5 linked regions of the Homo sapiens genome follow. The protein of the gene in region 1 purifies or fractionates together with the protein of each later gene. This does not show direct contact. Each region holds a gene or a part of one and is shown in the gene's direction. Other genes may lie near its edges. The genes, in order: QTRT1, APBB1, HPCAL1, APBB2 and HSPD1.

Region 1 (5,973 bases):
TTGAGAGAATGGCCATGATTCCAGTAGTTAATGATCTTCTAGGTTTTTTGTTTGTTTGTTTTTGTTTTTTTTTTTGAGACGGAGTCTCAGGTGATCCACCCCCCTTGGCCTCCCAAAGTGCTGGGATTATAGTCATGAGCCACCGCGCCCAGCCTATTTATGTATTTATTTATTTTACTTTTTTTTTTTTTGGAGGGTGGAGTCTTGCACTGTCGCCCAGGCTGGAGTGCTGTGGCGCGATCTCGGCTCACTGCAACCTCTGCCTCCCTGCAACCTCCGCCTCCCGGGTTCAATCTATTCTCCTGCCTCAGCCTCCTGAGTAGCTGGGACTACAGGCACCCGCCACCAGGCCCGGCTAATTTTTGTATTTTTAGTAGAGACAGGGTTTCACCATTTTGGCCAGGCTGGTTTCAAACTCCTGACCTTGTGATCTGCCTGCCTCGGCCTCCCAAAGTGCTGGGATTACAGGCGTGAGCCACCGTACCTGGCCTCTTTATTTATTTTTGAGACACGGTCTTACTCTGTTGCTCCTCCTGGAGTGCAGTGGCTAGGTCAAAGCTCACTGCAGCCTCAAACTCCTGGGATCAAGCAGTCCTGCTTCAGCTTTCCAAAGTGCTTGGAATATAGGTGCACGCCGGTGTGTCCAGCCATGCATTACCTTTTACATGCAATGCTTTCTGGTGTTTTCTTTTCTCTTTCATTTAAAAACAACGACAACAACCCGTGCGTCATCAAAGTCATTTCTCAACCACCTGCAGTTTGACAAGCACCGCCCCATGGGGTGCTTCTCAAAGTGCTCTGAGGCTTACCTGCCCCAGCACAAACTACTGAAAGTCCTGGTAAAATGCAGCTCCCCTTCCCATGATCCGACCAGAGTTGGAGCTAGGGAAGGCCTAGGAATCTGCATGTAAACACCCTGTGTCCAGTTGGAGGATGCTCACATTACCTTCAAAACCTGGCCCCAGACAACGCCTGCATTCCTTTTTTTTTTTTTCTTTTTTTTTTTTTTTGAGACGGAGTTTCGCTCTTGTTGCCCAGGCTGGAGTGCAGTGGCGTGATCTCAGGTCACTGCAACCTCCACCTTCCGGTTTCAAGTGATTCTCCTGCCTCAGCCTCCTGAGTAGCTGAGATTACAGGCATGCACCACCATGCCTGGCTAATTTTTGTATTTTTAGTAGGGACAGGGTTTCACCATGTTGGCTAGGCTGGTCTTGAACTCCTGACCTCGTGATCCACCCCCACCTTGGCCTCCAGAGTGCTGGGATTACAGGCTTGAGCCACTGCACCTGGCCAACACCTGCGTTCTTGATGGCATGGCCTCTTCGGGTTGAACTGGGCAGCTGGGGCACAAGATAAGCCTGGACTTGGAGGCCAGACCCAGGTTTGAATCCAGCCTTTGGCATATGTAGCCTTGGACTAGTGGTTTAAGCTCTGCAAGCCTCAATTTCCTCTTGTTTCAGGCAAGTTGAACAATAGCACAATTCTGCAGCCCCTTCTGTGTCATCCAGGTCCTCAGAGCGAAAGTCTAAAATCCAGAACATTGGCCGGGTACCATAGCTCACACCTGAATCCCAGCACTTTAGGAGGCCAAGGCAAGAGGATTGCTTGAGACCAGTCTGGGTGACATAGTGAGATCCCATCTCTAAAAAAAGAGAATTGGGCCAGGCACGCTGGCTCACGCCTGTAATCCCAGTACTTTGTGAGGCCAAGGCGGGCAGATCACGTGGTCAGGAGTTCGAGACCAGCCTGGCCAACATGGTAAAACCCCGTTTCTACTAAAAATACAAAAATTAGGCCGGGCGTGGTGGCTCGCGCCTGTAATCCCAGCACTTTGGGAGGCTGAGGCGGGCAAATCATTGAGGTCGGGAGATCGAGACCAACCTGGCTAACACGGTGAAACCCCATCTCTACTAAAAAATAGAAAAAATTAGCTGGGCGTGGTGGCGGGCGCCTGTAGTCTCAGCTACTCGGGAGGCCGAGGCAGGAGAATGGCGTGAACCTGGGAGACAGAGCTTGCAGTGAGCCGAGATTGTGCCACTGCACTCCAGCCTGGGCAACAAAGTGAGACTCCATCTCAAAAAAAAAAAAATTAGCCAGGCATGGTGGTGGGCACCTGTAATCTTAGCTACTCGGGAGGCTGAGGCAGGAGAATCATTTGAACCCGGGAGGTGGAGGTTACAGTGAGCTGAGATCACACCACTGCACTCCAGCCTGGGCGACAGAGCAAGAATCTGTCTCAAAAAAAAAGAAAAAAAGAAAATTAGCACGCAAGCATGGGAGTGTGTGCCTGTGATCCTAGATACTTGGGAGGCTGAGGTGGGAGGATCGCTTGAGCCCAGGGGTTGGTGGCTGCAGTGAGCTATGATGACATCACTGTACTGCAGTCTGGGTAACACAGTGAGACCCTGTCTCAAAAAAAAAGAAGAAAAGAAAAGAGAAAAAACTTAGAATGCCCTGAAAAATTTGCAACTCATTTCATGGCTAACTTAGATCTCTCATTTTTTATCCCAGTTGTTACAAGTATTCACATATTTTTATTTTTATTTATTTTTTATTTTTTTGAGATGGAGTTTTGCTCTTGTTGTCCAGGCTGGAGTGCAGTGGCACCATCTCGGCTCACTGCAACCTCTGCCTTCTGGTTTCAAGCGATTCTCCTGCTTCAGCCTCCCGAGTAGCTGGGATTACAGGCACCAGCCACCACGCCTGGCCAATTTTTGTATTTTTAGTAGGGATGGGGTTTCACCATGTTGGCCAGGCTGGTCTCGAACTCCTGACCTCGTGATCCACCTGCCTTGGCCTCCCAAAGTGCTGGGATTACAGGCGTGAGCCATGTGCCCAGCCTATTTTTATTTTTTAAATTTTACTTTGGCCGGGCGTGGTGGCTCATGCCTGTAATCCTGGCACTTTGGGAGGCTGCAGTGGGCGGATTACCTGAGGTCAGGAGTTCAAGACCAGCCTGCCCAACATGGCGGAACCCTGTCTCTATTAAAAATACAAAAAATTAGCCGGGCATGGTGGTGGGCGACTGTAGTCCCAGCTACTCGGGGGGCTGAGGCAGGAGAATCACTTGAACCCGGGAGGCGAGGGTTGCAGTGAGCCAAGATGGTGCCATTGCACTCCAGCCTGGATGACAAGAGCAAAACTCCATCTCAAAAAAAAAAAAAAAAAAATTAAGTTCTGGGATACATGTGCAGAACGTGCAAGTTTGTTACACAGCTATGAATGTGCCATGGTGGTTTCTGCACACATCAGCCCGTCATCTAGGTTTTAAGCCCCGCATGCGTTATGTATTTGTCCTAATGCTCTCACTCCCCTTTCCTCCACCAAGTCTTAACATATTTTGTTGTACAAATATTACAGTGTTTGATGACAGGCTATTGGGTGTTTTGTTGTTGTTGTTGTTTCGTTTTGTTTTGTGAGACGGAGTCTCGCTCTGTCGCCCAGGCTGGAGTGCAGTCATCTGATCTCGGCTCACTGCAACCTCCACCTCCCGGGTTCAAGCGATTCTTCTGCCTCAGCCTCCTGTGTAGCTGGGACTGCGGGTGCCCATCACCACACCTGGCTAATTTTTGTATTTTTTAGTAGAGACAGGATTTAACCACGTTGGTTAGCCTGCTTTCGAACTCCTGACCTCGTAATCTGCCTGCCTTGGCCTCCCAAAGTGCTGGGATTGAAGGCATGAGTCACCGCGCCCGGCCCTTTTTTTTGAGATGGAGTCTCACTTTGTCACCCAGGCTGGAGTGCAGTGGTGTGATCTTGGCTCACTACAACCTCTGCCTCCCAGGTTCAAGCGATTCTCCTGCCTCAGCCTCCTGTGTAGCTGGGACCAAAGGCGTGCACCACCACGCCTGGCTACTTTTCATATTTTTAGTAGAGACAGGGTTTCACCATGTTGGCCAGATTGTTCTTCAACACCAGACTTCAAGTGATCTGCTTGCCTCGGCCTCCCACAGTGCTGGGATGACAGGCGTGAGCCACTGCGCCTAACATGACAGCTGTTACTCAGCATGTGGGATGTTTACTGTTCTCACATCTGGAAAACTCTGAATTCTGAAACACATCTGGTTCCAACAGTTTCAGCTAAGGGACTGTGGGCTGTGCCTCTTCTGAGTACTGAAGGAAAAGGTCTTGCATACAGCAGGCACTCAATAAATGTTAGCTGAGATCAGCAGTAGTCCCAGCCCCTAGACAGACAGACAAACTGATGGACCCTCTCCTCTGTCTCCCTCTCCGTCTCCCTCTCCGTCTCTGGCTCTGTCTGTCTGTCTCTGTCTGTTTCTCTGACTCTCTCCCTGAGCGACTCTGGAAGTCTGGGCAGGGTGTGTTCTGGGATTGAAGACCAGGCGCATTTCCTCTTCTGTGGCCCTCACCTTACCCTGTACCCTCAGAGATGACCAAGCGAGACGTGCCTGGCTTCGCCATCGGGGGCCTGAGCGGGGGTGAGAGCAAGTCGCAGTTCTGGCGGATGGTGGCGCTGAGCACCTCTCGGCTGCCGAAGGACAAGCCCCGATATCTGATGGGGGTTGGGTATGTTGTGGATAGGGAAGCCAGAGCCCTACCTGTGGGAAGTGGATTCCTGGGGACCCCCTACCCTGCTTGGGGAGGTGGCATTTGGGGGAAACGGACACAGGTCTGATCTGAGGAGACTAGGAAGACATGGCTGTCCCTTGGGGGCCATTCTGAGGGAATATGGCCCAGTCTGGGGCAGTGTGAGGGTTGGGAGGGGCCCTGGGAAGCCCCTGAGGTTCTCTGCCCCCTCCCGTCATGGCTGCAACCCCAGCTATGCCACTGATCTGGTAGTCTGCGTGGCTCTTGGATGTGACATGTTCGACTGCGTCTTCCCCACACGGACAGCGGTGAGGCTCTGGCAGAAGGAGGTCAGGGCGGGAGACGGGTGGGGGACTAGGGAGGCAAGGTTAGGGGTGGGGGGTGGGGAGAATGAAGCCCTGGGTGACGCCCCTTTCCCTGCCCTTCCTCTCCCACAGCGCTTTGGCTCTGCCCTGGTGCCCACTGGGAACCTGCAGTTGAGGAAGAAGGTGTTTGAGAAGGACTTCGGCCCCATAGACCCGGAGTGCACCTGCCCCACGTGCCAAAAGTAGGCAGGATGGCACTGGGAGCTGGGGCAGGGCATGGAGGGGACAGGGCCTGGCCGTGCTGAGCTGTCCCCTGCCGCTCTACAGGCACAGCCGCGCCTTCCTGCACGCACTGCTGCACAGTGACAACACGGCCGCGCTGCACCACCTCACGGTCCACAACATCGCCTACCAGGTGAGCCAGTGCCCGGGGCAAGGTGGGCGGGGGTGTCCTAGGTGCGTATGCCCCACGCTGACCTCCCCTCCCCGCAGCTGCAGCTCATGAGCGCCGTCCGCACCAGCATCGTGGAGAAGCGCTTCCCGGACTTCGTGCGGGACTTCATGGGCGCCATGTACGGGGATCCCACCCTCTGTCCCACCTGGGCCACTGACGCTCTGGCCTCTGTGGGAATCACACTGGGCTGACCTGGCATTGGGAGAGGGAGGGAGGAAGGAAGGGAGGGAGGGGCTGGAAGATACTGAAGGATTCCTTTTTGAAAGGTTTTTTTTATTGTAACTTACAGAGTGTGTCTGTGTCTTCTTGAGGAAGTGGCCTGTCTGGGTCCCCCTCCCAGTCTGAGCGTCATTGCAGTGGAATATCTCCCCTTCTCACCAATCATAACACGTCACTGTGGCAGCAGCGGATAGCTGGAAACCACCTGCCAGTGCCCAGCATGTAGGGCGTGCCCCTAGAGCGGGAGCTGCCACCTGCTTCCTGGGGCCCAGGCCCCCCAGCCACCTTGGAGGGAGGTACTGTTGGCCTCTCCTTTTTTACAGCTGAGGAAGCAGGCCCAGGGAAGGGAGGGAACTTGCCCAAGGTCATCACCATCAAAGAAATGGTATCTTGGCTTTAAGGCATACACTCCTAGTCTGACTTTTATAAATATGAGGCTTAATCTCC
Region 2 (5,973 bases), on another chromosome or scaffold:
AACCAGGCACAAAGGGAGACCCCACTCCTTCATCCCATGGAAAAGCTTTGGTGGGATTGGGAGGCTGATGTTAGATGACTGGAGGACACCAGACAGCAGCCTGTAGCTGGGTTTAGTGTTACAGCACCAGCTGTGGGCTGGGAGCATCTGGAGAAGGAAACAGTGAGCATAATTGTCACATACTTCATTGTTGCAAAGAATTTTTTTTTTTTTTTTTTTAAAGACAAGTCTCGCTCTGTCCGCCAGGCTGGAGTGCGGTGGCGTGATCTTAGCTCACTGCAACCTCCGCCTCCTGGGTTCAAGCAATTCTCCTGCCTTAGCCTCCTGAATAGCTGGGATTACAGGCTCCCGCCACCACGCCTGGTTAATTTTTGTATGTTTAGTGGAGACGGGGTTTCACTGTGTTGGCCAGGGCTGGTCTTGAACTCCTGACCTCAAGTGATCCACCTGCCTCGGCCTCTGAGAGTGCCGGGATTACAGGCGTGAGCCACTGTGCCTGGCCTGATCTGGTTAACTCTTATATTTCAGTGCTTTCCTAGTGTCTGCTATTTATTTGTTTATTCACTTAACAAATACCTTTGAAGCTTACCATGTGGCAGGCCCTGGACTAGGCACAGGGAGAACAGTGGCCACAGTCCCATTTTCCTAGAGGTTATAGAAGGTTATGGTAGAAAAAAACCAGGAATTAATAAAATAATCACACAAATAAATGTGTGAGTTATTCGTTGAGAGAAAGTAGCAAGATATAACAAAGGAATTTCATCTAGTCTGAGGTTGTAAAAGACTTCCCTGTGAAAGTGACATTTGAACTGAAATCCAAAAAATAAGTAGAAGTGAATGCGGTCAAGTGGAATGGAGGTGGGGGTGGGATGGGGGAAGATCAGGGTCTACAGTGGGAGGCACTTTGGCATTTCCAAGGTACTGAAAGAAGGCCAATGCAAGATGAGGCCGACAGCTGGGCAGTGGTCAGGCTGCCAGGTCAGGGACCTCAGGGGCTATGTTAATGATTTTTTCTTCATCCTAAGGGCAGCAAGGAGTTATTGAAGTCTCCGAGAGTGCACTTGCCTTAATCAGATTTGAATTTTGAAAGCTCACTTTGGCTATTTCATGGAGGGGACTGTTAAGTGGGTGGAGGTGGATGTGAGCAGCTCAGTTAGGAGGCTCTTGCTGTAGTCCTGGCCAGTAATGAGAGTATCTTGGGCAACAATGGAGCTGAAGAAGAGTGCGTGGATTCAAGAGCTGTTTAGACGGGTATAGTCAACAGGCCTCAGTGATTGGTTCGATGTGGGTGAGGGACAAGGATGACTCCTAAGTTCCTGGCTGTTGGACCTTCTGGATAGTGGATTATTTCTTTCAAGGTGGCAGATGCTTGAAGAGGCCAATTTGAGCGTAGAGATTGTGAGCTCACTTTTGGACATGCTGAGTTTGAGATGCCTTTGGGGAATCTGAGAGGCAAAGTCAGGTTGGCAGTTAGATTCACAGATCTGGAGCTGAGAGGAGAGGTCTGGGCTGGAGATAGGAGTTTTGGCATTATTGGGTTGTAGAGGTAATCAAAGCCATGGATGTAGAGTAGCTTGGCCCTGGAAAGTGGGCATCCTGAAGTGAGAAGGGAAATGAAGCTAGTCATAGCCTTGAGGCCCTCCAACATTCAATGGATGTGTAGAGGATGAAACTGCCAAGGATAGTGACAACTGGAGAGAGGCAGGAAGAAGAAAAGAGGCTACTTGAAAAAGAAGTGGTAGGGTATCATGTCAAAAGACACACAGGAAGAACTCAACAAATGTTTGATGAATGAAATAAAAAATGAATTAATGAATAAATGAGACTTGCTTCAGATTACATGGCCAGGAAAGCTAGACCTGGGAGTCAAACCCCGGTCATCTTTAATTCTCTGCACTTTCCCTTATACCGTGCTGACTTTCACGTCCAAAATCTTACATTGAAAGAGGGGACCCTTCTTAGAAAAGGTGGGGATTGAACTGAGGTTTTGAAAGAAGGTTTGGATTTGCAGAGTGGAGTGGGTATTTCATTTGGATTCGATGGCACTGCCAAAGACTTGGAGCTGGAGGTGAGAAAAGCATGCTGACCCTTACGCCTTTGCTTTCCTCCTTCTCGTCCTCAACTTCTAAACCCTTGTTGGCTCTTCCATTTGTTACCCCCATTCCCATATGTGCTTCTTTCCATCTACCACTTGACTCTGGTCCTCCCTATGCCAGATCAACTGCCTGTGACCCTTGACTGCTCCGCTTGGACAAGTGGTCTCTAAACTTACTTCCTGCTTTATCTTATGCTCGTTTTTAAACATTAGCCCATCCAGAAGCTGCAATATTCATTCATTAATTATTCATTTATTTAACAAGTGGTAATGAATGCCTGATACATGTCAGGCACTATTCTAGCTTCTTGGCATGCATTAATCAACAAAACTGACAAAGATCCCTGCTTTTATTTAGCTGACATTCTAGCAAGGAGAGACAGACAATAAAATGAGTAAACCATGGAGTATGTTAGAAGGCAACAACTGATACAAAAAAAAAAGAAGAGAAAAGCACAGCAGGATTAGGGGGATTGCATGTGGGGCTGGAGGTCAAGGTCACAGTGTAGGTTTTAGTCCTGAGTTATCAAATCTGACAGCCTTTTTCCATACCTTGGTCCACTGCTTTCACTGCTTCCCTGCCAAACTTCCCAAGACTCTGAGGCCAGGCTCCATCTCCCACAGCCCCATCTATTCAGCAGTTTGACTATGATGTCCCTTTCACACACCTGAACTTTGAGATTTCCAATTGCCCTGGCCTAAATGTCATAAACATCACACCCCTCTGCCTGGCTTTTGAAGCACTCTGCAATCTGACCTGGCCCATCCACTTCTGTGACACTTGGTTTTACCAGTTCGGGTGCATTTGCCCTTGTTGCCTTGAGAGTGACTTGCTCATGCATCTGGAATTTCTTCAGCAGATAAGCCCTGTGTTAGAATTGGGGACAGAGGGATGAATTAAATTCCATTTCTGTTCTTGAGATGGCCACGGCCCAGTGTGGAAAAAAGTTTTCCAGCAGTTACAAGACGTTATGGTAAGAGTTGTCTCAGAGTTGTCCTCTCCCTGCCCTGCAGCAGGCATGGCTTCCTAGACAGCACCTAGTTGGAGCCCTGAAGGATGACAGTCTGAAGTTTCTCAGTCCAGCAGGGAAAGGGCACTCAAGACAGAGGCTTTTCCCTCAGTTGCAGTCTGTGTCTCTCAAGGGCATTCTCTTCTCTTGCTTTGTATTCCCCATCTGCTTTACAGGCCATTTGCCAAGATTAGTTGTTAATAATAATGCTACACAAATCATCTGAAGCTCAGGGAGCAGTAAAATATGAAGCTTGACAGCTCTGGTGAGGCCAGTTTTTGGAAGACTTGTATGCTTTTGGGAGCAGTTTGGCCTTGATCCAGCTAGAAGTCAGATGAGCAAGGCCAAGATGGGAGAAGACATGCAAGGAAGACATTTGTCCTCTGCCCAAAAGAGTCCACGTGGTCTGCTCCTAGTGGGAGCTGAGAGCCACTAAAAGGGGCAGAGGGCCTGGGAGTGGACCACAGAGGCATGTGCCTTTTGCACTGGCATTGTGCAGAGACAGTAGATCACACAGCCAGCGTATGAGTGTGGGGACTAGAACTGATGCCTTTGCCACAACATGTGCTCCTGCCTTGGTGCTCTGCTGAGTGCAAGCAAAAGTGGGATCCATGAGGGGAAATGTTTAACAGCAGTTTGAGGTGGAGGAGGCCATGTGTTATAAGGGAAAGTTGATTGATCTGAAAGTCAGGAACCTTGGGTTCCTTGGCTCTTGAGCACATTATAGACATTCTTGAGTAGAACTAAGATCTTGAAAGCCCTTCTAGTTCTGAAAACTAGTAATATAGAGAAGAGGTAGGAGAAAGGCATGGCTAAGAACCCAGGCTCTGGAATCAGACTGCCTGAGCTCAGGTCCCCATTCCTCGATGTGACCTAAGGCATATTACCTATCTCTTCCGTTTCCTTATTTGTAAAATGGAAATAAAGTAATCTATTGTGATGTTGTTGTGTGGGCACAAATGAGGTAATACACTGTAATGACTTAGCACAATGTGATACAGAGTAATCACTCCTCAGATAGATATCTTAAAAAATAATTGGGTCTTGGGAGAGGACTGGCCTGTAGGGTCTGATTTGGGAGTTATTGTGGTGTGAAGCAATGTGATGTCTGAGTGTGATGAGCGCTGAGAGAGCATGATTTGGGGAAATCAGAACTTTGAGAGGTCAGTCAGTTCAGAAGTGTGGAGGAATAGGCAGAGCCGGTGAAAATAACGAGCCTAGGATCCAAGATTTTAAAAAGTAGGAAAATGTCCAGTTACTGAAGCCAGGGGAGGAGAGCCCCAGGGAAGGGATACTTGGACAGCGTTGTCCAAAATGTAGGCTGGCAAAGTGGGGATGGGGCAAAGGCCCTGGGTTTGATTGGGTGGAACTAGAGGTCCAGGGTAGAGCTGGGGTATCCTCTGTCTACCCTCAGTGGTATCTTGTGTCCATATGTTCTAGGGGTAGATGTGATTAATGGGGCCCTCGAGTCAGTCCTGTCCTCCAGCAGCCGTGAACAATGGACCCCAAGTCATGTCAGTGTGGCCCCTGCTACCCTCACCATCTTGCACCAGCAGGTAAAGAGCTGGGGTAGAAGTCGTGGCTGCGCCTTGCCATAGAGGGGAGACTGGGGGTGAGGGGAAGAGCTGCTAAGATGGATGTGGAACACAGTGTGGGGTTGGTGTTCCTTTTTAACTGAGTTCCCTCCATGCAGACAGAGGCAGTGCTGGGAGAGTGTCGGGTGCGTTTCCTCTCCTTCCTGGCCGTGGGCAGAGATGTCCACACGTTTGCATTCATCATGGCTGCCGGCCCAGCCTCCTTCTGCTGCCACATGTTCTGGTGCGAGCCCAATGCTGCCAGCCTCTCAGAGGCTGTGCAGGCTGCGTGCATGGTAAGCTACTAGTAGGGTGGTGTGGTGGTGGCGTGGCCCCATGGGAGGTAGGCTGGGGAGTGACTGCCCTGCTTGCCTCCGCAGCTTCGCTACCAGAAGTGTCTGGATGCCCGTTCCCAGGCCTCCACCTCCTGCCTCCCAGCACCCCCTGCTGAGTCTGTGGCACGGCGTGTAGGGTGGACTGTCCGCAGGGGTGTTCAGTCGCTGTGGGGCTCCCTGAAGCCCAAACGGCTGGGGGCCCATACCCCATGAAGAAGCCCCCACCTTCCCTCCACCTGCTTGTGTTGGGCCCCAGGGAACTAAAGGGTGTGGGTCAGGGAGGGGTCTAGAGGCTATTCCTAGGCCTCAGGCCTCCCAAATATGCCCCTCCCCAGTAGCTACGGTTCCCTGCCTAGGAGCTGGGGAGGGAGAGATCTAATCCCTTCAAGGAAGTGATAACACTGGAGTGGTAACAAGAGGAGCAGGAAGCAAGGCCAGCCCTGGTTCTCCATCCCCATGTGTTTCAGGTGGAACAGGAGGAACTGGTCCAGGCCAGGCCTCATCCTCCTGGACCCAGCAGGGGCAGAAGGAGGAAGGGACTGGTCCAGGCATGGGTCCCTTCCCCCTGCTCCATGGGCACCTCTGCTGTATTGATATCACTAATAAAGTCTGTCTGCACTGCTGTGTGCCTTCTTATGCCTGTACCACACCATCAACCCATTAGCCTGTGCCTCAGTTATGATCTTGCTCCAAAGATCTCCTTGCCCTGCTTGCCTGGAAAGAAGAAATTGGGACAGTCACACAGGGGTCTGGAGTCCAAGTCTCTTATCTTTATTTTAACAGACTGGCAGCATCAGGTCGCAGCAGCAGTACAGGGTTCCTGGCTGGGCAGCACAGGCCTGGGGCGACAGCTCCTGTCTTGTCTGCCCAGGGCAGTGTCAACTTAGGCCTCTACTCCATGGCTGTGAAAGGACAGCAGCCTCAAGGCAGTCTAGCTCCTGGGCACAGGCAGCCAAACC
Region 3 (5,973 bases), on another chromosome or scaffold:
ACCGACCACGAGCTGCAGGAGTGGTACAAGGGCTTCCTCAAGGACTGCCCCACCGGCCACCTGACCGTGGACGAGTTCAAGAAGATCTACGCCAACTTCTTCCCCTACGGCGACGCTTCCAAGTTCGCCGAGCACGTCTTCCGCACCTTCGACACCAACGGCGACGGCACCATCGACTTCCGGGAGTTCATCATTGCGCTGAGCGTGACCTCGCGGGGCAAGCTGGAGCAGAAGCTCAAGTGGGCCTTCAGCATGTACGACCTGGACGGCAACGGCTACATCAGCCGCAGCGAGATGCTGGAGATCGTGCAGGTACCGGCGCCCGAGGCCCCGGGTCTCACCGCGGGCCCAGGTCCCCTCCCAGCTCCCAGCCCCCAGCCCAGGGCTTTTTTTTTTTTTTTTTTTTTTAAGACAGGAATCTTGCTCTAGTGACTGGAGTGCAGTGGCACTATCTCAGCTCACTGCAACCTCTGCCTCCTGGGCTCAGGTGATTTTTCCGCTTCAGCCTCTTGAGCACCTCCATGCCCTGTTAATTTTTTTGGTATTTTTGATGGTAGAGAGAGGGTTTTGCCACATTATCCAGGCTGGTCTTGAACTCCTAGGCTCAAGCGATCTGCCCGCCTCAGCCTCCCAGAGTGCTAGAATGACAGGTGTGAGCCACCGTGCCTGGCCTCCCTGTGTTCTTTATGTTCACTCGACATTGGGTCTTTCTTGGCCAGGTTGCTACCTGGTGCACTTTGGAAAGTGAGCAGTTGTCACCTGATTGGGCAGACCCTTGCAAAGGGCAATGGTAAAAGCCAATGTTTATTGATCACTTGCTATACATCAGGGCCGGGTGGAGCACTTTGATCCGTTTTCATCTTCATAACCCAACAACGTGGGTCATTCTCTGCATTTTACAAAGTCTGAGACTCAAATAGATGAATTTCTAAAAATTATATTTTATATATATTTGGAGATGGAGTCTCACTTTGTCGCCCAGGCTGGAGTGCAGTGGCATGATCTCGGCTCACTGCAACCTCCACCTCCTGGGTTCAAGAGATTCTCCTGTCTCAGCCTCCCATGTAGCTGGGATTACAGGTATGTGCCACCGCAGCCAGCTAATTTTTGTATTTTTAGTAGAGACGAGGTTTCACCATGTTGGCCAGGCTAGTCTTAAACTCCTCACCTCAGTTGATCTGCCTTCAGCCTCCCAAAGTGCTAGGATTACAGGCATGGGCCACCGTGCCTGGCCAAGAATTGTATGATTGCTGGGCTCCTTGGCACTTGCAAGAGGTACCTGCCAAGACCTGGGGAAAGCCCTGGATTTGAGAACTCAACAGATAGCTTGTGATGTCCCCAGGAATGCGCAGTCATCAAGTAAAACTGAAGCATTAACGATCACGAGAATCAGCTCAGCACGGGAAAGACGTCACTTTAGGAGGCATCTCTTCACCTTCATGCCTATCAACAGCTCTAGCAGAAAGGCCATGTTTCAGAAGGAAACCAAGTTTTGTTCACTTGGCCAGGTGCCTAGGTATGCGAGAGAGAGTAGAGAGCAGAGCTGCCCCTCCCTGGCATTCCCCTGAGTGCCTCCCTGAGCCCAGGAGCATCCAATTCTAGAACTCATGGCCAGGCCTGTAATCCCAACACTTTGGGTGGCCGAGGCTGGAGGATCGCGTGAGCCCGGGAGTTTGAGACCAGCCTGGGCAATATAGTGAGACTCCATCTCTATAAAAAATTAAAAGAGTAGCAGGGCATAGTGGCATGCACCTGTAGTCCCAGCTACTTGGGAGGCTGAGATGGGAGGATTGCTTGAGCCCAGGAGTTCAAGGTGACAGTGAGCTGTGATTGCACTGCTGCATTCCAGCCTGGGTGACAGAGTGAGACCCTGCCTCCAAAAAGACCAAAAGCAAAATAAGAAAAAAATGGAACTCTTCAGAAGGGGTGGTCCCATGGTAGGGAACTTCAGGGGTGGGCCTCCAGTAGCGGGTATCAAATCCGTGAACTTCTGCAGCAGCAGTGGCCCGCCTCAGGAATGAGCGACCCATTTCCCACGTAGATGGTTTTCACACTGTCAGAGTAAATTAACATGGGCTCGGGGAACTCTGGTACTGTCGTCACTTTCTGGCTCTTAGCTTCATGCAGTGGCGGAAGTAAGAATTCTATTCCCCAGGAATCACCCGTCCTGTCCTGTGTGTTAACCCTTACCCTTTGCAAATAGGTGTGCCTGTCACTGGCCGTGCAGAGGCTTGGTCAGAACATCAAGGCACTGGTAGAACTGTTCCAAGCAGTGAGGAGCAGCCACTTCTGTCCAAACGGGACAGCCCCCAAACCAAGTCCCCAAACCCTGAAAGCCTTCCCCCGACGCCATCGATGGCTCCCTGGCCGGCTGGGTGGTGTTTCTCATGGGACACTTGGTTGCTACCTCTTTCTCACAATGAGAAAATGGTCTGTTGTCAGGAATGAGAATATCAAGCCACCTTCACGTGGAGTGCTCAGAAAATCCCACAGCAGTGCCACCACTCCCCACGCATGTCACTCTGCTCAGTGGCCACTCACCAGTCCCATCACCGTCTCCTCTGTACACCCACCAGCAGCACAGAGTCACATGCCCCAGGCTGGGCCACTCAGGCAGAGACACGCAGAGAGACCAGTGGCTAGACTGAGCCCTCGGCTGACAGTGCCCTAAACAGGCCATGGAGACCCCAGTGCTGCTGCTTCCTGTCCTGTCGGGGCTGGTGATGGGGCTTGCCCTGTGAGTTTCAGGGACTCAGTCTCTTTTAAACTGAGGGGTAACAGCCATGGAGTAAAATGCACACAGCTCAGCAGGCAGTGTGGGGAATTTCACACATCTGTGACCACCACTCTCCCTCAGCATTCCCAGCCCCCGACAGGGACACTTAGGCACCTTCCTGGCACTACCCACCCCCAGGCAGAGATACCAGCACCCTCACCACCCTCCCAGTAGAACCCTTCTGCCAGCTCTGCTCTTGAACTTCACATAGACACCCGTGAGGTTCACTAGGGAACATTCTCCCCACTGGGGAAGGGTCCCGAAGGCCACCGGGAGCCCCTGACCTCTCCGAGCCTTGTTGTGGGCTGGGCGGAAGCCCACCCTTGCTGCACCCGCCCAAGCCCCCGGGCCTCTGAGCACAGTGTCATTGCCCCCATCCGCAGGCCATCTACAAGATGGTGTCGTCTGTGATGAAGATGCCGGAGGATGAGTCCACCCCGGAGAAGCGCACAGACAAGATCTTCAGGCAGATGGACACCAACAATGACGGTAGTGCGGGGTGGGGGCGGGGCTGCATGTGTACGCCACGGTAGGGGCAAAACCATGTGGTTTGGGGCACCCCCTCCCCTCTGCAGCTTCTTGGTCTCCTGAGGGCCACCCCCGCCCGCCACCTGCCTGGCGCCTGCCATGCCCAGGGAAGAGCGGGATGCAGTCAGGGACACCCGTGCTGTATCCTGGCTCCTCTGTGCAGCTTTGTGATGCTGGGCATGTTGTGGCCTCTCTGAGCCACTGTCTCCCCACTTATAGAATCGGGCATACCCATATTCCCGTGGGTACAATGTTTAGGGGCAGGGAGGCAAGCATGCTGGTGGCCCTGAACCTGGAGGGGTTGAGATCAAAGGATCCCAGATGTTGGGGTCCTGGGGTGCTGGCCATGCCTCTCTTGCTGCCATCCTGAGAGAAGAAGCTGCCCAGATGGCCCCAGTGTCCAAGGGGAACTGTCAGGATGTACGCTGCCACCTTGTCCACCTACAGCAGCTCTGTGGAGACTCAGCCCCACTGCAGAAGTGCAAGTCTCACGATGGTGGGTGGCAGCAGTGGTGACAGGGCTGTGCCTCGAGTGCCCTCCTCTGCATTGGCTGTGAGGTGAGGGCGGCTGTGCGGCCCTCCCATTCTGCTCTTCTTGCCGGCTTTGTCAAGAGCAGCCACAGCACCAGGTTTGCTTTGCTTTTGAGCAATAAAGAAACACGACCTTAAGAAGAGAAAATACAGGCTGGGCGCAGTGGCTCACGCCTGTAATCCCAGCACTTTGGGAGGCCGAGGTGGGCAGATCACGAGGTCAGGAGATCGAGACCATCCTGGCTAACACGGTGAAACCCCGTCTCTGCTAAAAATACAAAAAAATTAGCCAGGCGTGGTGGCGGGCGCCTGTAGTCCCAGCTACTCGGGAGGCTGAGGCAGGAGAATGGTGTGAACCCGGGAGGCAGAGCTTGCAGTGAGCCGAGATCGCACCACTGCACTCCAGCCTGGGCGATAGAGTGAGACTCCATCTCAAAAAAATAAAGAGGAAATACTCCCTGGGTTGTGCTGGGGATTAAACGATAAGCTAATGCCCAAGAAGCTGCTCTGCGAAGTCTGGAGTGCAGCCCTCGGGTGAGTTAAGCATGGCCCCAGCGGGAGACGGGATGTGGGGGAGCTGTAAGCAGCAAAGAGCATTCCAGGCAGCCAGGTCACAGTTTCAAAACACACACACACAGAAAACAAGGCTGCCTGGTGCCTGGCGTTGCCTTTGGGCTGATGGGAAATGTGTGTTCCACCCTCCAGCCTAGCAGGGCACCTGCTGCCGCTCTCCTGAGGCTGTCCGCTCCTCGTGGGGATGGTGAATCCGGTCCCATGGGGTTGTGAGGTTTCAGCGAGATGATGCCTTAAAGCTTTTAGCAGGGCTTGCACTCCACAAATAATGGCTGTTGTTCCCAACTTCACAGTGTCCCTGGGGAAGCCACCCATGGTCACTCGCTGCCCGAATCTGCCTCCTGGCTTGGCCCTGCCCACCTCTTCAGAGGGCATCTTCTAGGTTGGTTGGGAATTTGGATGGCATGGTCGTTGCTAATGTGCCTGCTGGGATGGAGCACTTCCTCCTGTGAGCCCAGGGGACCCGCCTGTCCCTGGAGCTTGGGGCAAGGAGGGAAGAGTGATACCAGGAAGGTGGGGCTGCAGCCAGGGGCCAGAGTCAGTTCAGGGAGTGGTCCTCGGCCCTCAAAGCTCCTCCGGGGACTGCTCAGGAGTGATGGTGCCCTGGAGTTTGCCCCAACTTCCCTGGCCACCCTGGAAGGTGCCTGGCTGCTCCAGGCCTCTAGGCTGGGCTGATGGGTTTCTCCAGGACACAAGTATCATTAAAGCCACCCTCTCCTCAGCTTGTCAGGCCGCACATGTGGGACAGGCTGTGCTCAGCAACCCCCTCGCCTGCCCTGCCCTCCATCAGGAGGAGCCAGTGGAACCTTCGGAAGCTCCCAGCATCTCAGCAGCCCTCAGAGTCGTCCTGGGGCAGCTCTGGTTCTCCTGACTGGAGGTCCATCTGGGCTGGCCTGCTCTCTCTCGGCCTGAGACAGGAGGGCCTGGGGTCAGGAACTGGAAGTGGGGAGGCTGGGGCCGTGGACTCTGAGGCCCCACACCTAGCCAAGGAGATGACCACACAGCTGGCTGCCCTGAGTGGTCAGAGGTGGAGGGTGGGGAGCCACTCTCTCCATTGGCAGAGGTTCCTGGGGACTGTCTGCTGAGGGCCTGGCTGTCCCTCCCTCTCCCTACCCACCCCTTAGCCCGGGCATTGTTTGGGCTCTCTTGGGGCCAGCAGGCTGCCCAGGCCCCAGAGGCATCAAGTTCGTGCCCTGGAAGAAGCCAGCCTGCCCAAGCCTGGGCCAGAGTCCCATGAGGACAGGTGTCCCTGCCTGCCAGTGGGCTGGAGGGGCTGAATTCCCAGCAGGGCCCTACTGTGCAGGGGCATCCTCCGTCCTGGTGCTGGTCTGAGTCCTCAAATGCATCCTCCCAGGTGCCTTTGAGATGGGTGTTCCCATTATCCCACCTTCGAGACGAAGATCCTGAGACCTGGAAACGTTGGTGGCTTGCCATGCGCCAGAGCCGAGAGCCCCTCCTGCATGCCTTCCCCTGTGCTGGGCCTGGCTGCATGCGTCTGTGTTGCCTGCACAGACATTTTGCAGGGTGCCCTAGTGATTCCAGCTGACAGCACAGAGCCTCAAACA
Region 4 (5,973 bases), on another chromosome or scaffold:
TCTCCATGTTGGTCAGGCTGGTCTCAAACTCCCGACCTCAGGTGATCTGCCCGCCTCAGCCTCCCAAAGTGCTGGGATTACAGGCGTGAGCCACCGCACCCGGCTGTGGCTAGAAGTCTTAATCTGTCATATTGAGGATATAAAAGTTATTTATATATTAAAAATCACCTAGAAATTCTGATGGTATTCTTTCTGAAAATATGTATGATTATAAACAAAGCAAATAAAAATATCTCCCTAATAACATTGCTAGAATGTATAATAGTACCTAGCATCATAAAGCAGCCTAATATAAATGTTTTGCCATGCCTTTTAGGAACAGCAGATTTGCACTTTCTCATAATCTCACTCTAAATACCCAAGAGTCTAAAAATAACTTTCTCTCATGTATCTATGCTCTGGATATGTGTCTCAGGGAAAACTTCATGTAGGTTTCAGGTAGGCCCTTCTCATATGAAATGCCACTCTTGAGTGAAATTAAATTATAAATTGAAACATGTTTCCCATAAAATGGTATAATAGTTGTAGCCAAATGGTAATAAAAATTGTTTTTTTTTAATTTAATTGTCAAGAGTATTGTTTAAAAGGCAGAAACCTTCCATTGGACTGGGTGGAGGAAAAGGAAATTTTGAAAAAGGAAAAACCACACTACATTCTCTGTTTCTGTAAAATGAGGCCTAAGAGCTAAGGTGAGGTGCTAGGTGAGAAGGAATCCCGATAAATAATAACTTTAAAGAATGGGGCCCAAGATCCTAACCCTTGGGGTTACAGCCCTTGACTCTCTTATGGGCCACATGGTCATACTGTTATAAAAATGGCCATGGCCTAGAGTGGAGGATTGATGTTGCCTTGCTTCCTGGAAGCATAGGGACTCTAGAATGAGCAACTTTTTTCTAAAATTGCCCAACCTAAGTATTTGGTGATGGAGAGATACCTCTAAGCTCCCAAACAAGGAAATTATTGCCCTTCTCTCCTGCAAAGATCCCTGTTTTGCCTGGGGGAGGAAGAGGGAATTGTCAGAATATAATTTCAGGAATTTCAGGAGCTGTGCTTTGGTTCATCTGCTGCTGAGGTAGAGATCACCAAAGTCTCTGTGGAGGGCAAAAGGATCAGATAAGAAAGAAGTCACTCCTCATAGATTGAGAAATCTGAAACCTTAGGAATTCTTGCTGATGAATTTTATTCCCTTCTAGTCTAAGAAACCTTTCTTTCTTCCCAGCGAGAGACATATAGAATAAATCACTAACGGCGCAAACAATATTTGAGATAAATGCGGTTGCCAGATAGTTTCCTAGGAGTTCTGCAGAGGCATGTGATGACTGCAAACAGCTGAGTCTGTATTTTAATTCAGTGGAATATATTCAGACTCCTCTGGGAGCTCTAACATGTTGTCTGTAGCCAAGGGCTCAATGCTACAGTAATAGTTTTGTGTGCGTGTGTACGTGTTCTTCAGAAATTAAGCCATTTCTTCAAAATTTCAGTTTAGTACAAACAGTAAGCCCAGGTCAAAAATGTTCACCAAGACATTAGCAAACTCTAATGGAGGGTTAGTTTTCCAGGCATTCAGAACACAGTTTCTAAACGTGGTTGAGAAAAATTACCTTGGATGTATGGAGCATCATTGAACAATGACCTTTCAGGTTAATTAAGAAAGCTGAAGCCCCAGAGGAATCTTGAGCAATTTTTTGTTGTTGCCTGAAGGAACCAAAGAATAAAAATGTAGTGGGAATATTTGGAAAGGGGATGATTTTTCAAGCTTGTAAAAAATGAAGACCAGCCACCAGAAGAAAATGCTTTTATGTGAATTCAAAGAGAAATGCTTTTTTATTTTAAGTAAAATTTAGGTCCTCAGACTTCTTAGCTTTTCTATAAATTGGCTTTTGGTTATCCACGTTAAGCCCTTTATTTGCTCCTGTTTAATATAGGAACAAATGGTGAAATAAAGAGGAAAATGGGTCCATTCTATGAGAATGTATGTGCAGTGGAAGCATTTCTTCTTTTAGTTTTCTATATAAAAATATTTACTCACACTGTATACTAAGTAGTTTAATCATGGCAGGTGTCTAATGACTTTTTTTTTCCCCAGCTGACTCAGGTGTTGACACCTTGGCAGTGTTTATGGCCAGCAGCGGAACTACAGACGTCACAAATCGGAACAGCCCAGCCACACCACCAAACACCCTTAACCTCCGATCCTCCCACAATGAACTGTTGAACGCTGAAATAAAACACACAGAAACCAAGAACAGCACACCTCCCAAATGCAGGAAAAAATATGCACTAACTAACATCCAGGCGGCCATGGGCCTCTCGGATCCAGCTGCACAGCCCCTGCTGGGAAATGGCTCTGCCAACATCAAGCTGGTGAAAAATGGGGAGAACCAGCTCCGTAAGGCTGCAGAGCAAGGGCAGCAGGACCCCAACAAAAACCTGAGCCCCACTGCAGTCATCAACATAACTTCTGAGAAGTTAGAGGGTAAAGAGCCCCACCCACAGGATTCCTCGAGCTGTGAGATTTTACCCTCCCAGCCCAGGAGAACTAAGAGCTTCCTAAATTACTATGCAGATCTGGAAACCTCAGCCAGAGAACTAGAGCAGAACCGAGGCAATCACCATGGGACTGCGGAAGAGAAATCCCAGCCAGTCCAGGGCCAGGCCTCCACCATCATTGGGAATGGCGATTTGCTGCTGCAGAAACCAAACAGACCCCAGTCCAGCCCTGAAGACGGCCAAGTAGCCACAGTGTCATCCAGCCCAGAAACCAAGAAGGATCATCCGAAAACAGGGGCCAAAACCGACTGTGCACTGCACCGGATCCAGAACCTGGCACCGAGCGATGAGGAGTCCAGCTGGACAACGTTGTCCCAAGACAGTGCCTCACCCAGCTCCCCGGATGAAACAGGTACCCCTGGGGAAGGCGTAGCCTCAGCTGGCACTTTTTTTTTTTTATCTTTTCAACTATTGGAGTAAATCTCTAGACTGACCAAAAATGTCCATTATGCAGAGAGGAACGTGAGCCTCTTGCGGTAAAATTGGGCAATTTATTTGCAAAATATTACTGCATTCCTCAACCATATTTTAGGTCAGTTTCATTTTGGATCGTGCATAAAGTTGTTTGTTCTGGGAAGCATTTTTGTAAAATAAACAGATCCTTGGTGTTAAGTACAGTAAAATATCATATATTTAGAAATTACACTTCCAGTGCATAGGTAGATCATTTCTATATGCTATCTAGAAATACTGGGTTTTGGTAAGCAAAATAATAAAAGAAACAAAGTTGTTGGGGGAAGGATATAACCCAATTAAGAGAACTATTTTAAAGTCCTCAAAATAACTTATTTATGGTGAAGCGCATAAAAAGTTAAAACATTAGCCATCTGTTCATTAAAGGCATTTCTCTTTTTGACATTTACTGAGGAGTGTTTTATTAGCCTTAAGTAATATTTAAAAGTGGGAAAATCGTATTTCTTGAAAAATATATTCAGAAGTTTAGACTTTTAACTAGTCTAATTGAGACCAGTCTTTCTGGACTTTTGTCTATATTTGTAATATTTTGGATTTGTCGGAGGTGTTAAAATGGTGACAGAAATGAACAGGATCCTAAAAGTCAGCTACTTTAAATATCATTTTCTTATAGCTCCCACTATACTGATTCTAAGATTGAAAAATGTGGAGAACCTTATTGTATCTGAATTCAGCGTAAACAAGCACTCAGAAAGGCTAATTTTTTAAAAGTAGTCCAGCAGTTCCCCTAGTGGGTCCCAGGGCTGTGTTAATATAGATATAACAAAGAAAATAGATAGAACCACCAGGGAAGGAAATCACATTTTTACAATCGATAAGGTAGATAAATTACAAGGACTAAAGATAAGGAAAAGAGGAGTTAAGACATTAACTTGTTTAAGAAGAAAAAAAAAGTAGCGTTTTTGAAGTGCCCTTTAAAAATCCCAGTACTTTCAATGATGCATACTACTGTGGAATGTGGCAGTAGGGAGGTTGAGATGAGGCCATTTCATCTCATAACTGTCTGGCCCTGCACATTATTGGAATCATAATTATGTTCAGTAATGTCCCTGAGTTCACAGCTCTCTATCCTTTTTACCCATTTAGAGAATTCATATCCTGAAGCTGATAGACATTGTCACCTGCTGGAGTTTGAATCTATTAATACATGAAAGACTCCTTGCACATCTTTCAGCCAAGCTCTACTTCCTGTGTTTGGCGTTTACTGACACCTTGCTGTCTCCCTCTGGTCATGGCACCCTTTCTGCTGCTCTTCCTGGTATAGCCGGTTCTGTTGTAGTTAAGTTTTAAACTAACCTAAAGTTTTGTTCAGGCACAGTGGCTCATGCCTGTAATCCCAGCACTTTGGGAGGCTGAGGCAAGAGGATCACCTGAGCCCACAAGTTCAAGACCAGTAAGACCCCATCTCTCCTCCTCCAAAAAAATTAGTTGGGCATGGTGGACGGTGGCATGTGCCTGTAGTTCCAGCTACTCAGGAGGCTGAGGCAGGAGGATCACTTGACACCAGGAGTTCGAGGCTGCAGTTAACCATGATTATGCCATTGCCCTGTAGCCTGGGTGATCGAGCGAGACTCTGTTTCAAAAAACATAAATGTATTTTTAAATGAATAATTAAGCTGCCTCTTCCCTTCACCCCAGCCCCCTTTCCCAGTGATGACCATTACCTTATGTTTTTATTTCCTCTCAGAAAATGTTTGAGTCATAGATCCGCATATTAATAATAAATTTTAAGACCGGCATGATGGCTCACGCCTGTAATCCCAGCACTTTGGAAGGCCAAGGTGGAGAGATGGCCTGAGCTCAGGAATTTGAGACCAGCCTGGGCAACATGGTGAAACCCCTTCTCTACTAAAACATTAAAAATTAGCCAGGCATGGTGGCGGGTGGCTGTAGTCCCAGCTACCTGGGAGGCTGAGGCACAAGAATTGCTTGAACCTATGAGGCGGAAGTTGCAGTGAGCCAAGATCCCGCCACTGCACTCTAGCCTGGGTGACAGGCGAGACTCCATCTCAAAAAATAAAAATTAGGCCAGGCGCAGTGGATCACCAGGTCAGGAGTTCAAGGCCAGCCTGACCAATATCGTGAAACCCTGTCTCTACTAAAAGTACAAAAATTAGCTTGGTGTGGTGGTGCGTGCCTGTAGTCCCAGCTACTCGGGAGGCTGAGGCAGAAGAATTGCTTGAACCTGGGAGACAGAGGTTGCAGTGAACCGAGATTGTGCCACTGCACTCCAGCCTGGGCAACAGAGCGAGACTCCATCTCAAAAGAAATTTAAAAATAAAATTAAATTAAATTAAAATTAAAAAAAAAAACAATAATAATCAATTTTAAAATTTACCCAAATGTTGTGATGATGTTTTTAGAATCCCTATGTTTTAGAGATATATACTAATATAAAATACTAATCTATGTCATAGTATAACATATATAATACAGTATAACACATACTGATGGAAACAATATTGTGTATGGTATTTTCTCCAAAATAATTGGGATTAGAAGGATAAAAAAAGAAACAAAATTGCCCATAAGCTGCTGATTGTTAAAGCTGCATTATGGGTACGTGCGGGTTCATTATTCTATTCTCTAATTTTGTATGTTTAAAATTTGCCACAATAAATAGTTAAAACCAGGAAAAAGTTACTCCAATTAGATTGTTTTATGAATGCTTTGCTTTTTTTCACGTAAGAACGTATTTTGTAGATCAGTCCATTTTTCTACGTCAGTCTTTTTAAGTATTATGTATACTATTCCACTATATACAAGTTCCACGATTTATTTAGCAAGTTCCCTGCTGATGAGTATTTAGGTATTTCTGTCCATAGCCCCTTGGCTTATTGAGTGCTGGTGTCAGTAGGGGCCTGTGGAGAGGGCAAAGTTTGTGCACTCCAGTCTACCTACTGGGACTCTTGAAATGTACACGTTAACTCCCTCTTTCCAGGAAGACTT
Region 5 (5,302 bases), on another chromosome or scaffold:
GTAATTGGATGTCCTGGGCTGTTTCATACTCTACCCTGCATCTCTTATGGCCAGAGGGGTCTGTTTTTATTAATCTGGCCTGTAATTCCATGTTTTGTGTTCAATGAAATCCATATACCTAATTCTTTGACTTTTCATAGGATGGAAAAACACTGAATGATGAATTAGAAATTATTGAAGGCATGAAGTTTGATCGAGGCTATATTTCTCCATACTTTATTAATACATCAAAAGGTAAGAACAAATCAATAACTGAATTATTATTATTTTTATTATTTTAGACAGAGTCTCATTCTCTGTTGCCCCGGCTGGAGTGCAGTGGCATGATGTGGTGGCGCGTTGCTCACTGCAACCTCCGCCTTCCGGGTTCAAGTGATTCTCTTGCCTCAGTCTCCCAAGTAGCTGGGATTACAGTCACACGCCACCATGCCAGGCTGATTTTTGTATTTTTAGTAGAGATGGGGTTTCACCATGTTGGCCAGGCTGGTCTCTTAACTCCTGACCTCAGGTGATCCACCCACCTTGGCCTCCCAAAGTGCTGGGATTATAGGTATGAGGCTCTGTGCCTGGCCAATTTTTGAATTTTTTAATAGAGACAAGGTTTAGCCATGTTGGCCAGGCTGGTTTTGAATTCCTGGCCTCAAGTCATCTGCCTGCTTTGGCCTCCTGAAGTTTTTAAAATATACTTTCTAATATGTGTCAAACTATAGGTATTAGTTGGTGTCATCCTCTAAAAAATAAATGTATATATTCCAAAAGTTAATGCATATGAGAAATGAAGGAGGAAAACCAACTCACTGGTGAATTTTAAAGTGTATTGGAACCTTGGTTTCGCTTTTCATTTAAATGTATTGCAGTCATTTTTTGTATATTTTTGAAATCTTCATTATTTTTACAGGTCAGAAATGTGAATTCCAGGATGCCTATGTTCTGTTGAGTGAAAAGAAAATTTCTAGTATCCAGTCCATTGTACCTGCTCTTGAAATTGCCAATGCTCACCGTAAGCCTTTGGTCATAATCGCTGAAGATGTTGATGGAGAAGCTCTAAGTACACTCGTCTTGAATAGGTAATAAGCAGTGGTATTTGTTGATTTATATTTCTCGGTGAAAGACAGAATTATTTGTATTGCTGTTTGCAGTTTCCATCATGTGTACCTCCACATTTGATCCAGTTGGGTTTGTATCTAGAATTGTAATTGTGTAAATCAGGTGTGCTCTAATGTATCCTTATGGTTGTGTTTTTGAAGGAACCCCAAAGTCTTTACTATTTTGATCAGCTTTCTCATAGAATAGACTAATTTAGCACATGGGTACCTTTCTGTATTTTGCAAGTGTTTACAGTTGTTTTGAAGGCACATGACTGAATCTTGTATTTTTTTTTTTTGAGACAGAGTCTCACTCCCTGGCCCAGGCTGGAGTGCAGTGGCATAATCTTGGCTCACTGCAATCTCCATCTCCTAGGTTCAAACAGTTCTGCCTCAGCCTCCCAAGCAGCTGGGACTACAGGTGCGTGCCACCACACCTGACTAATTTTTGTATTTTTAGTAGAGACAGGGTTTCACCATATTGGCCAGGCTGGTCTCAAACTCCTGACCTCGTGATCCGCCCGCCTCAGCCTCCCAAAGTGCTGGGATTACAGGTGTGAGCCACTGCGCCCGGCCTTGTAATTTTTTTATTTTTTATTTTTATTTTTGGAGACAGAGTCTCTGTCACCCAGGCTGGAGTGCAGTAGTGCAGTGGCTCAATCTCAGCTCAAGCCTCCGGGGTTCAAGTGTCAATCTTGTTTTTTGTTTTGTTTTGTTTTGTTTTTTTAAGGTTTTTCTGGTTAAAAATATGTAAATTTTCAGAATATTATTTTGCATAGAACAGGGAAGTAAACAACTAACTTCCAAATAACTCAGAGCCAGGCATGGTGGCTCACAGCTATAATCCCAGCACTTGGGGAGGCACAGGCGGGTGGATCACCTGAGATCAGGAGTTCCAGACCAGCCTGGCCAACATAGTGAAACCCCGTCTCTACTAAAAATATAAAAATTAGCAGAGCATGGTGGCGTGTGCCTGTAATCCCAGCTACTCAGAGGCTGAGGCAGGAGAATCACTTGAATCTGGGAGGCGGAAGTTGCAGTGATCCGAGATTGTGCTGCTGCACCCCAGCCTGGGCAACAAAGCGAGACTCTGTCTCTAAATAAATAACTCAGATGTAAGTGTATTTCACCATCGAATATTTTTATTTATTTTGAGAGACAGACTCTGTCACCCAGGCTGGCCTGCGGCGGCACGATCATAGCTCACTGCAGCCTTGAACTCTTGGGGTCAAGCAATCCTCCTGCCTCAGCCTCCCAAGTAGCTGGGACTACACACTTGCACAAGCACACTTGGCTGATCTTTTAATTTTTTTGTAGAGACGAGGTCTCAATATGTTGCCTCAATATGTTGCCTAGGCTAGTCTTAAACTGTTGGTGAATCTTAAGTGATTCTCCCACCTCAGCCTCCCAAAGTGCTGGGATTACAGGCATGAGCCACTACCCTTGGCTGTGATCAAGTATTTAGTCTGTTGTTAAATGTTTACTAAATAGTCTGAAGTAGAGAAAATAGCACCCAATCTAAAATAAGGTGAGGTCTAGTCACTTATTTAAATCTACATTTTAAGCTATAGTTTACTATTAGTTTAAACTTTAAGACAGGTAATGTTCATGCTGCAGACAATCTAAGGGCATTATTAAAATGTTTGTTCTTCCTTATCTCAGAATTGAAGTATGTCAGAAGCAAGACTTTTCTTTCCATTTTGTTATAGTAGAAATGCATACATTAACAGGTACGTTTTAGACATTACACGTGCTCATCTGACCCAAAAGCTCTAATGAGCTGCCTTACCCTGGAATGTTTTTCTTAGCTTGGATTTGCTTTTTTGGAGGGATTAAGAAAAGACTTGGCTGGGCGTGGTGACTCATGCCTGTAATCCCAGCAGTTTGGGAAGCCGAGGCGGGTGGATCATGAGGTCAGGAGATGGAGACCATCCTGGCTAATACGGTGAAACCCCGTCTCTACTAAAAATACAAAAAATTAGCTGGGCGTGGTGGCGGGCTGAGGCAGGAGAATGGCGTAAACCCAGGAGGCGGAGGTTGCAGTGAGCCGAGATCTCGCCACTGCACTCCAGCCTGGGCGACAGAGCAAGACTCTGTCTCAAAAAAAAAAAAAAACACACAAAAAAAAGACTTGAGGCCAGAAAAAAACAAGCCTACAGAGTTTTCATTAAGCCATTTTACTGCTAGTTGAAAAGTGGGATATCCAGTTTACATAGCATATAGCTTATTCCTCTGATTTTTATTTGGGTCCTTAATAAAATAGACCAGCTGTCTTGAAGTTTGAACGTTGCTTCTGTTTCACAATCTGCTCTCAAATGGACATTTGATTACACATTCCAAGTATTCATTTACCTGGTAAAAATTTCAGGTGAGCTTAACAATACTGTCAGCTTTTTGTATAACATTTATAAAAGAAGTGAATTCAGAACATTGCTCATTCAAAACTCAGCATTAATATATGGAGATGTTTATTAAATGACCCTCAAATGTAATATTTAGTAATTACTGTTTTTCTACCATTCATAATAGTTATCACTGTATCCTATAACTTACTGTGATGTGATTTTTGCTGCTCGGCCTCCTGAGTAGTGGGGATTACAGGTGCCTGCTACCACATTTGGCTGATTTTTGTTATTTTCAGTAGAGACAGGGTTTCACCATCTTGGCCAGGCTGGTCTCGAACTCCTGACCTCGTGATCCACCTGCCTGGGCCTTGCAAAGTGCCGGGATTACAGGCCTGAGTCACCACGCCCGGCCAGGCCAACAGTTTATTAAGAAGGTAAACGGATATGGACAAGTATAATTAATAGAAAATAGCCTAAACTGTCTCAGATACTTCCTGTCTTAATTTGATCAAAAATTGCTAGGAAGCAAAAAAAAAACAAAAAAACACAAAAACCAAACCAGATTACTTAGGGAGTCCTAAGTAATCTAGTAACAGCTTGAGGGGAATTAAACAGATAGGCATTTTTATTTCATTTAAATCTTACTATCAACTATTCTTAACAGGCTAAAGGTTGGTCTTCAGGTTGTGGCAGTCAAGGCTCCAGGGTTTGGTGACAATAGAAAGAACCAGCTTAAAGATATGGCTATTGCTACTGGTGGTGCAGTAAGTAAAATAAATGTGATAATGGTTTGCTGAATGTTTATACTTGTCTGGAATTTATAGATAGTTTAACATTTCACAATTAGATACTACAACTATCTGTTTCTTTTGGCTCTTTGGAAGGTAGGGGTTGGATTAAATTCCCGTTAATTTGCCACAAGTCTGGCCTAAGAATGAGCTTACTGACTATTCTATATTGACTAAATCTTATTGACTGAATAAGGGGGTTTCCTTTTTTTTGTTTTTTTTGGAGACAGTGTCTTGATCTGTCTTGACTATTCTTGACTTGATCTATATTGACTATTCTTATTGACTTAAATCTGTGGGGTTTCTTTTTTTTTTTGAGACAGGGTGTCTTGATCTGTCACCCAGGCTGGAATGCAGTGGCACGATCTTGGCTTACTGCAACCTCCACCTTCTGGGTTCAAGCAATCCTCCCGTCTCAGCCTCCCAAGTAGCTGGGACTACAGGTGCAGTACCATGCCCAGCTAATTTTTTTACTTTTAGTAATGACGGGTCTCACTGTATTGCCTAGGCTTCTCAAACTTCTGGACTCAAGCAATATGCCTGCCTCCGCCTCCCAAAGTCCTGGGATTACAGGCATGAGCTACCGAGCTCAGTTTTGAAAGGTAGAAGTGTATGCTACAAGGGATGTAGGACTTGAGAGTCAAGGCCTATGGTCTTGTCCTGGCTCTACCAGTAAGTGTGACCTTCGATGTTTTTTTCTCAAGTAAGGCTGGTAATAATTACCACAGTTGTGAGAATTGAGAATTTGGAAATGCAGTGAAAGAGACTATACTCAAGTCTTGTTCTGGACTAACAGTGATCTTAAAATCTCTCATTTCAAAGAAATAAAGTATTTTGATGATTCTCTTGCATGGTGTATTAATAAACTTGGTATAATGGCAGAAACTGTAACCTACAACAGGTTTACGTTTAACTCTTTTTGTAGGTGTTTGGAGAAGAGGGATTGACCCTGAATCTTGAAGACGTTCAGCCTCATGACTTAGGAAAAGTTGGAGAGGTCATTGTGACCAAAGACGATGCCATGCTCTTAAAAGGAAAAGGTGACAAGGCTCAAATTGAAAAACGTATTCAAGAAATCATTGAG

What was found.
Region 2: the proteins of QTRT1 (region 1) and APBB1 purify together in Homo sapiens (affinity purification with mass spectrometry; 3 studies listed by BioGRID and IntAct, with this or other methods). This does not show direct contact.
Region 3: the proteins of QTRT1 (region 1) and HPCAL1 purify together in Homo sapiens (affinity purification with mass spectrometry; one large-scale study listed by BioGRID and IntAct). This does not show direct contact.
Region 4: the proteins of QTRT1 (region 1) and APBB2 purify together in Homo sapiens (affinity purification with mass spectrometry; 3 studies listed by BioGRID and IntAct, with this or other methods). This does not show direct contact.
Region 5: the proteins of QTRT1 (region 1) and HSPD1 purify together in Homo sapiens (affinity purification with mass spectrometry; 3 studies listed by BioGRID and IntAct, with this or other methods). This does not show direct contact.

Annotation. Positions count from the first base shown.
Region 1 is NC_000019.10:10,707,773-10,713,745, forward strand, and holds the end of QTRT1 (queuine tRNA-ribosyltransferase catalytic subunit 1), read left to right. Parts: intron 1-4,388; coding exon 4,389-4,527; intron 4,528-4,780; coding exon 4,781-4,856; intron 4,857-4,985; coding exon 4,986-5,095; intron 5,096-5,180; coding exon 5,181-5,268; intron 5,269-5,345; coding exon 5,346-5,498; 3' UTR 5,499-5,593; downstream 5,594-5,973.
Region 2 is NC_000011.10:6,394,788-6,400,760, reverse strand, and holds the end of APBB1 (amyloid beta precursor protein binding family B member 1), read left to right. Parts: intron 1-4,545; coding exon 4,546-4,661; intron 4,662-4,798; coding exon 4,799-4,975; intron 4,976-5,059; coding exon 5,060-5,227; 3' UTR 5,228-5,636; downstream 5,637-5,973. UniProt on the Homo sapiens protein: Transcription coregulator that can have both coactivator and corepressor functions. Adapter protein that forms a transcriptionally active complex with the gamma-secretase-derived amyloid precursor protein (APP) intracellular domain.
Region 3 is NC_000002.12:10,419,824-10,425,796, forward strand, and holds part of HPCAL1 (hippocalcin-like protein 1), read left to right. Parts: coding exon 1-312; intron 313-3,159; coding exon 3,160-3,265; intron 3,266-4,701; coding exon of another isoform or gene 4,702-4,790; exon of another isoform or gene 4,791-5,973. UniProt on the Homo sapiens protein: May be involved in the calcium-dependent regulation of rhodopsin phosphorylation.
Region 4 is NC_000004.12:41,010,512-41,016,484, reverse strand, and holds part of APBB2 (amyloid beta precursor protein binding family B member 2), read left to right. Parts: intron 1-2,086; coding exon 2,087-2,902; intron 2,903-5,973. UniProt on the Homo sapiens protein: Plays a role in the maintenance of lens transparency, and may also play a role in muscle cell strength. Involved in hippocampal neurite branching and neuromuscular junction formation, as a result plays a role in spatial memory functioning.
Region 5 is NC_000002.12:197,489,089-197,494,390, reverse strand, and holds part of HSPD1 (60 kDa heat shock protein, mitochondrial), read left to right. Parts: intron 1-140; coding exon 141-234; intron 235-898; coding exon 899-1,067; intron 1,068-4,094; coding exon 4,095-4,194; intron 4,195-5,143; coding exon 5,144-5,302. UniProt on the Homo sapiens protein: Chaperonin implicated in mitochondrial protein import and macromolecular assembly. Together with Hsp10, facilitates the correct folding of imported proteins.